2 linked regions of the Homo sapiens genome follow. The protein of the gene in region 2 purifies or fractionates together with the protein of the main gene of each other region. This does not show direct contact. Each region holds a gene or a part of one and is shown on either strand. Other genes may lie near its edges.

What was found.
Region 1: the proteins of SLC60A1 (region 2) and XPO5 purify together in Homo sapiens (affinity purification with mass spectrometry; 2 studies listed by BioGRID and IntAct, with this or other methods). This does not show direct contact.

Annotation. Positions count from the first base shown.
Region 1 is NC_000006.12:43,527,539-43,531,038, reverse strand, and holds part of XPO5 (exportin-5), read left to right. Parts: intron 1-214; coding exon 215-351; intron 352-1,662; exon of another isoform or gene 1,663-1,683; coding exon of another isoform or gene 1,684-1,790; intron 1,791-2,113; coding exon 2,114-2,211; intron 2,212-2,833; coding exon 2,834-2,880; intron 2,881-3,307; coding exon 3,308-3,405; intron 3,406-3,500. UniProt on the Homo sapiens protein: Mediates the nuclear export of proteins bearing a double-stranded RNA binding domain (dsRBD) and double-stranded RNAs (cargos). XPO5 in the nucleus binds cooperatively to the RNA and to the GTPase Ran in its active GTP-bound form.
Region 2 is NC_000001.11:205,589,339-205,593,122, reverse strand, and holds part of SLC60A1 (major facilitator superfamily domain-containing protein 4A), read right to left. Parts: intron 1,254-3,784; exon of another isoform or gene 984-1,253; coding exon 836-983; intron 1-835.

The DNA of each region.
Region 1 (3,500 bases), on a different chromosome or scaffold from region 2:
TCCACATTAAATAGTAATGAAAGCTACTGCTGATCTCGGCCACCAACATCTGTCTTTAAAAAGATGCTGTATCTATAAGTTCTCTTAAGTAAATACAACTGCTCTTCTGGCTGAAAAACCTTATTGTAGGCTAGAAATGAAATTCATGGGACAGGGCTGGCAGTAACAGATGTTGGATTTGTCATTTTCAATGCTCTTTTTTTCCCCTTTACAGTTTTCATATCCTAGGGAAGGCAGGCCCTTCCATGCAGCAAGACTTCTATACTGTGGAGGACCTTGCTACCCAGCTTCTCAGCTCAGCCTTTGTCAACTTGAACAATATTCCTGACTACCGACTCAGACCCATGCTTCATATCCTTTCAAAAGTCTCTACATAACCCAAAAGGTCAGAAAATTAGAGAGAGAAACAAAACAGGTCACAGCAACCAGAGGGAAGAGGCAGAACTGGAAGGAAGAGATGAGATTATGTATCTAAGTGTATCATGTCATTAAAAACACTGGCAGATTGCAGGGAAAACATGAAGGCAGTCCAGATGGCCATAAACTTTTCCTTAGGGGTAAATTTTTACCTTCCCCCTTCTCGGAATTATTACAGATAAAACTTTTTTTTTTTTTTGAGACAGTCTTGCTCACTCTGTTGCACAGGCTGGAGTGCAGTGGTATGATCTCGGCTCACAGCTTCTGCCTCTCAGGTTCAAGCTATTCTTGTGCCTCAGCCTCCTAACTAGCTGTGATTACAGGTGTGCACCATCACGCCCAGCTGATTTTTATTCCTATTTTTTGAGACAGAGTTTTGCTCTATTGCCCAGGCTGGAGTGCAGTGGCATGATCTTGTCTTACTGCAACTTCCACCTCCTGGGTTCAAGTGATTCATGTGCCTCAGCCTCCCAAGTAGCTGGGATTACAGGCGCATGCTACTACGCCCAGCTAATTTTTTTGTATTTTTAGTAGAGACAGGTTTTCGCCATGTTGGCCAGGCTGGTCTCAAACTCCTGACCTCAAGTAATCCGCCTGCCTCAGCCTCCCAAAGTGCTGGGGTTACAGGTGTGAGCCACCATGCCCAGCTGTGAAAGATAAAACTTTTATCCCTTTTCTGTATTTTTAGAAGCACTTTTTTTTTTTTTTTTTTGAGACAGGGTCTCAGTGTTACCCAGGCAGGAATGCAGTGGTGCCATCAAAGCTCAGTGCAGGCTCAAGTGATCCTCCCACCTCAGCTTCCTGAAGAGCCTGGACTGGACCACAGATGCGCACCACCACACCCAGCTAGTTTTTATTATTATTTGTAGAGATGGGTCTGTATTATGTTCCCCAGGGTGGTCTCAAACTCCTGGCTCAAGTAATTCTCCTGCCTCAGCCTCCAAAGTGCTAGAATTACAGGCCTGAGCCACCACACCCAGCCAGAAGCAGCAGTTTTAACACTTCATTCTCATTCAGACCCTTATTAATAGTTGAATCTCTTTCTTTCTTTTCTTTTTTTTTTTTTTTGAGACGGAGTCTTGCTCTGTTGCCCAGGCTGGAGTGCAGTGGCGTGATCTCGGCTCACTGCAAGCTTCGCCTCCCAGGTTCACACCATTCTCTTGCCTTAGCTTCTCGAGTAGCTGGGACTACAGGCGCTCGCCCCCATGCCCGACTAATTTTTTTTTTTTTTTTTTTTTTTTTTAGTAGAGACGGGGTTTCACCATGTTAGCCAGGATGGTCTCGCTCTCTTGACCCCGTGATCCACTCGCCTTGGCCTCCCAAAGTGCTGGGATTACAGGTGTGAGCCACCGCAGCCAGCAAATCTTTCTTACCTGAAATTATAAGGAGAATGGTGAAGGAGAGTTTGTTACAAGGATGTCCTCCTTCCTATTTTTTTATTCCTACTTTTTGGGCCAGTGACCATAATGTGCAGCCTGACGGAAATGCAGCTAAACTAAGAGTATAATGGAATTCAATATCAGTGCCATTTAGGATTTTAGGAAAAGAACTTTAAGATTTTTTCACTGTTAACACAGGATATTTTTGACATCTGGCAAATCCTTTAGGGATTGATTCTGCCCAGGGGTGCAACCCACCACCTGGCAGGTGAGAGATGTGTGCCTATGCACTAAAATTTCTTAACTTGTTGCAGCACGTGTCTTTGTAAAGCCTCTGGTGCTCTTCTGTCCCCCAGAGCACTATGAAGCCCTGGTATCCCCCATCCTCGGACCTCTTTTCACCTACCTCCATATGGTAAGAGATAAGTCAGGAACAGGAAGCAAAGAGTACTATTAAGGCCTCTGGCCATTTCTGAGCTTTGCAAGTCAGGAGCTCCTAGAAGTGTTGTCTACTAGCCCTGCCAGACTGGCTGGGCAGAGCTTCTACCCCAGCTGACTATCCTTGCTGTAGGATCGAGCAGCCCCCAAAGAACTAAACTGATTTAATTGCCACAAGACAGCTTCAGTTGCAGATTCTGCTCCTAACCTCCTGTTAACTGAGGAGAGGTAAAAAGAGGAATGCTTGCTCACAGACCCTTGCCAGGAATGCTGGGTCTGTTATCCTTACTCTAGAATTAAGCAGGGGGACCAGCTGGGTGGAGAACAGGTATGTCTAGAGACCCAGGAATTCTAAAAATGTTGTTAATTCTTTCCAAGCAAAGAGGTGTTTGAGATACCACCTTCATCAGGGATGTGGGATAGGTTACAGAAACCATAGATGTTTTTTTTAACCTTGTGGTGTGGAGTCTACAGAAGTTGTCATTGATGCCTAGAATCATCCTTGGCTAATTTTAATCATGAAGTGGACTTGACTTTAGATATTATGTGTTCCAATCCTTTCCCCAATTCTAGCATTTATTTCCTTTGTGTTTTCCCAGAGGCTTTCTCAGAAATGGCAAGTTATCAACCAAAGGAGCCTGCTGTGGTAAGGGATACCTACCCACTCTTCTTGGTGGATGAACTGGCAGCCAGGTTTGGGGTGGGAAAAGGAAGCGGGCAGGGATTCTGCTGTCCCAGGGTAGAAGAGCAGTAGGTTGTAGTCATTCTCAGCCTAGGTGATACATGGCTTGTCTGGACAGGCTGTTACCAGCAGGCAGACTCTGAGATCCAGCCTTCATAGGGGCTACTGTTACCTTACTCACTTATTTTAATTCTGTAATGTCTATCCAACTGGACAGAGTCACTAGTAATAATGTCCTTCAGTGGATCACTGCTGTCCATTCCCAACTTTTGCATAAAACGAAGACCCAAAGGAGAAGAAAGTGGTCAGAGAGAGTCTGATTAGGGTCGCTGCTTTCCTTGTCCTTCCTTTTCTGCACTCCTGTGGAACTTGGCCCCCTGGTTTTCTGCAGTGGAGAAGATGAGGCTGCAGATGAAAACCCAGAGTCTCAAGAGATGCTGGAGGAGCAACTGGTGAGGATGTTAACCCGAGAAGTCATGGACCTAATCAGTAAGTGGCATGTCGAAACTGGGGCTATAGAGGATTTTCCTGGAAGAAGAGCTGGTCGCTCAGCCAACTCCATGAAGGCCTGACTAATGCAAAGG
Region 2 (3,784 bases):
ATTATTTTTAATTAACTCATTAAAAAAGAGATCTTTGCTATAGGCACTCGGGAGGCTAGGGAAAGGGGAGGGAGATTAGTCGAGAGAATTAGAGATTTCTGACATCAAAGAGGCTGTGTGACTCCTGAAACCAGATCTGTGTTCTAATCCTCCACGTTTCTAACATCCACCACAGCCACAAGGCAGGCACGTACTGTTACTGAAAATTAGCTTACAAAATGCCTTTCCTATGCCATAACTTCTCCTGTGCATCTTTGCTTTTCTTTGAACTTGGCATTTCCAGCACATCCATATCGCACAAAATGTCAGCTGCAGGTCAGCAGACGTTACGATGGGGACAAAGCGGATGGAAAAAAGAAGCTTAACTGCTTCTCTGCGGCCTAAAATCCCATCATTACGGGGATCATTCTGAATGGAGGGAGCCCAGCGGGTCAGAACCACCCCGGCTGTGGGCCTGCTCCCGCCAAAGTCAGGAGGGGGGTGTTCATTTCTCCAGGGAGCTAGGGCAGCGTTCTCGCTGGGAGATGGTGCTGGCCTAGAAGAGCACAGGGGAACATCACACACCTGGGACAGTTGTGGGGTGGGGAGAGGGGGGAGGGATAGCATTAGGAGATATACCTAATGCTAAATGACGAGTTAATGGGTGCAGCACACCAACATGGCACATGTATACATATGTAACAAACCTGCACGTTGTGCACATGTACCCTAAAACGTGAAGTATAATAATAATAAAATTAAAAAAAAAAAAAAAGAGCACAGAGAGACAGGGCAGAGCGAGGCGGCGGCGCCCAGCTAGATAGAGCGCGCCTCCTGGCTCGGGCCCGGCCCTCACCTTTGTACTGCAGCGAGTCCTCCGTGTAGGCCAGCATGCTGGGGAAGGTGCTGCTGAGAAACAGGCCCAGGCTTGCCGTCCCCACGAACAGGAAGACGACGTTGTAGGAGAAAATAAGCAGCACCAGGAACGTCACCACCACGCCAACCTGTCGCGGCAGAGGTGGAGGCGGTTAGGAATTGCGAAAAGCTGAGCATCGGTGGTGAGGAACCGCCAGGAGTCGGCGTCTCCTGGCTTGGCGTTTCCTCTCTAGCCCAAGGAGCCCAGCTGTGTGACCCGCGCGCCACCCCGTGGACCAGGCGGGAACCGCAGTGTTCCGGGGACCGTTCTGACATCTGGAAGGAAGCGTGGAAAGGAGACCCCCGCCTAGACATCTTCCCACCTAGACATCTCCCCTAACAGCTACGGTACACGCTGCGTAAGCATTTGGGGACTGAGGACTACCTGTCCCCAAGGTCTTATCTGTAACCGCGGGAACTCCACCCAAGCCAATTTCATCAGCTCTCTCTGCCCTGCCAGCCCTGGGGGTAGGAGAGTCTCTGTTTCTTTGTGAGAAGCTGCTTCTCTTCTCCTGAAAGCCAAGAGTGCACAGACAGGAAGCCATCAGATAGCAGGGGAAGAGGGGTGGTGGCAGCAGGGTCCCATCCTCTGGGAATCCTAGCCAGCCACCCAGGGAGAGGGTCAGTGGCTGTGGCAGTCAGCTTGGCACCCTCAGATTTGGCTCAGATTCCCATGGGCAGATGCTAACCTATGGTTGGAGACCCAGAAATCTTTCTTTTCTTTCCTTTTTTTTTTTTTTTTTTTGAGAGACAGGGTCTCACTCTGTTGCCCAAATTGGAGTGCAGTGGTGCAATCTCAGCTCACTGCAGCCTCGACCTACAGGGCTCAAGCGTTCCTCCCACCTCAGCCTCCTGAGTAGCTGGGACCTCAGGCATGTGCCACCACGCCTGCTAATTTTCTGTATTTTTAGTCGAGAAAGGGTTCGCCATGTTGCCCAGGCTGGTCTTGAACTTCTGGGCTCAAGCAATCCATCTGCCTCAGCTTCCCAAACTGTTGGGATTACAGGCATGAGCCCCCACGCCCAGCCAAATCTTTCTAGTTCAGTAAAGGTCTCTGTCATACAGGCATGTTTTTGTTAATATAACCATATTTCTAAGTTCTTTAAACACGTTTTTATGTCTGCATTGAGTCACTTCTGTGCAAGATGTATCTGGGAATAAACCCAGGCAGCACAAGATTTGGGGTCAGAAGACCCAGGTGGAAGTCCCGATGTGTTTTTTACCAGCTGTGGAACCCAGAAGTAGCTGATTGCTCTGATTCTTAACTTCCTAATCTGCAAAATAGGAATAGTTACAAAAGCCACACTAAAGAGTGGTGGTGAAATAATACAGATGAAGGGGCTCTGTAAACTGTGGTGCTTCAGACAAATATGAGTCCTAGTGTTTCTCTGTGGGCTTTTCTTAGACGTCTCAGGAGATAAGGATCTTCTATAGCAGCCTATGGCTTTGAGGTAAAAATCTCCTGGATGAAGACATCTGTTTCTTTAAAAAGTAAGTACAGACTATAGAGCTAGGCAAGAAATCTCATCCAGCTCCCAACCCCTCCACTTCTGGGCATGCAGAAAGGAAAGACTTTCAGGGTTGGGAGCCGATCCTGGGAGAGTTGCTCCAATTGGAAAATCAAAGCCGGTGCTCCTAATCCTTGAGGCCTTTACGCTCCTCTAGCAGCCCTTCCGTCTCTGCCACAGGATCTGTTAGGTGGAAGGTGGTCTCGAGGCTCAGAGGCCTTACCCAGACAGACTTCCTTCCCTGGGGAGGGATCAGCCACAAAACAGTGGCCGAAGGAGAGAAACACATTCCCTTCAGAATGGAAATGGAAAGACAAAAGACTTCTTTCATGCAGTAAAAATATGAAAGTCATAGCATAACTATGGTTCCAAAGGTCATGTCTTTCTTTGGCACAGAACATGGTCCCTGAGATCCATTTGTTCTTGCTTTCCCCTCTGTTCACTCTCTCAATGTTGGGGTGGCCCAGGATTCTCTTCTGGCTCTTCCATGTCCGCAGTGCCCTGCTCCACGTTTCACCTGCCTCTACAGCAGGCATGCTTGTATCTATCCCTCTAGCCATGAGCTGTGTCCAGGACTCCGGACTTGCACCTAAAGCTGCCCCTTGGATATAGTCAGTCCCTGGATGACTAACCATGTGGCCCAAACTAGACTCTTAATTTCCTCTGCCAATCCTACTCCTGCACACATCAAGTGAGGGCATCCCAGTCATGCAGTTGCTCAAGTCCTGTGTCTAAGGTCCTTGATTCCTCCTTTCCTTACCTCCCACACCTGGGTCAGCAACAAGTCCTGTCCACACCATCTCAAAAAACATGTTCGATCCTTGTACTGCTCCAGATCCATCCAGACCACCCCATCCCAGCCACCTCCCTCTTGCGCCTGGACTACAATAACAGACAGTCTGTGTTTGACTCTTGCCAGCTACAGTCTGTTCTTCCACACTGGAGTGCACTTTTAAAATGCAGTGCAAGTGGCTGGAGATGGTGGCTCCTGTCTAGTTCTACCACTTTGGTAGGCTGAGGCAGGAAGGATCGCTTGGGCCCAGGAGTTCAAGACCAGCCTGGGCAACATAGTGAGACCCTGTCTCTCTAAAAAAAACAATAATAAATTTTAAAAATGCAATGCAAGCTATGTTAGATGGAAATGTGAAACATCACGGGGCACCTGTATAAGTGTCGTTTACTTCATAGCATGAATAAATGTATCTGTGAGATGCAAAAAAATAAAAAGAAAAAAGAAAATGCAACGCAGACCTGCTTAAAACCTATTGGCTTCCTGCCCACTTAGAATAAAATTCAAAGCCCACCTTACAAAACCCTGAGGATGTAGCCCCTGTTTACTTCCCCATCCTCATCTTTTTCTGCTCCCGATCCCCCACCCTGCC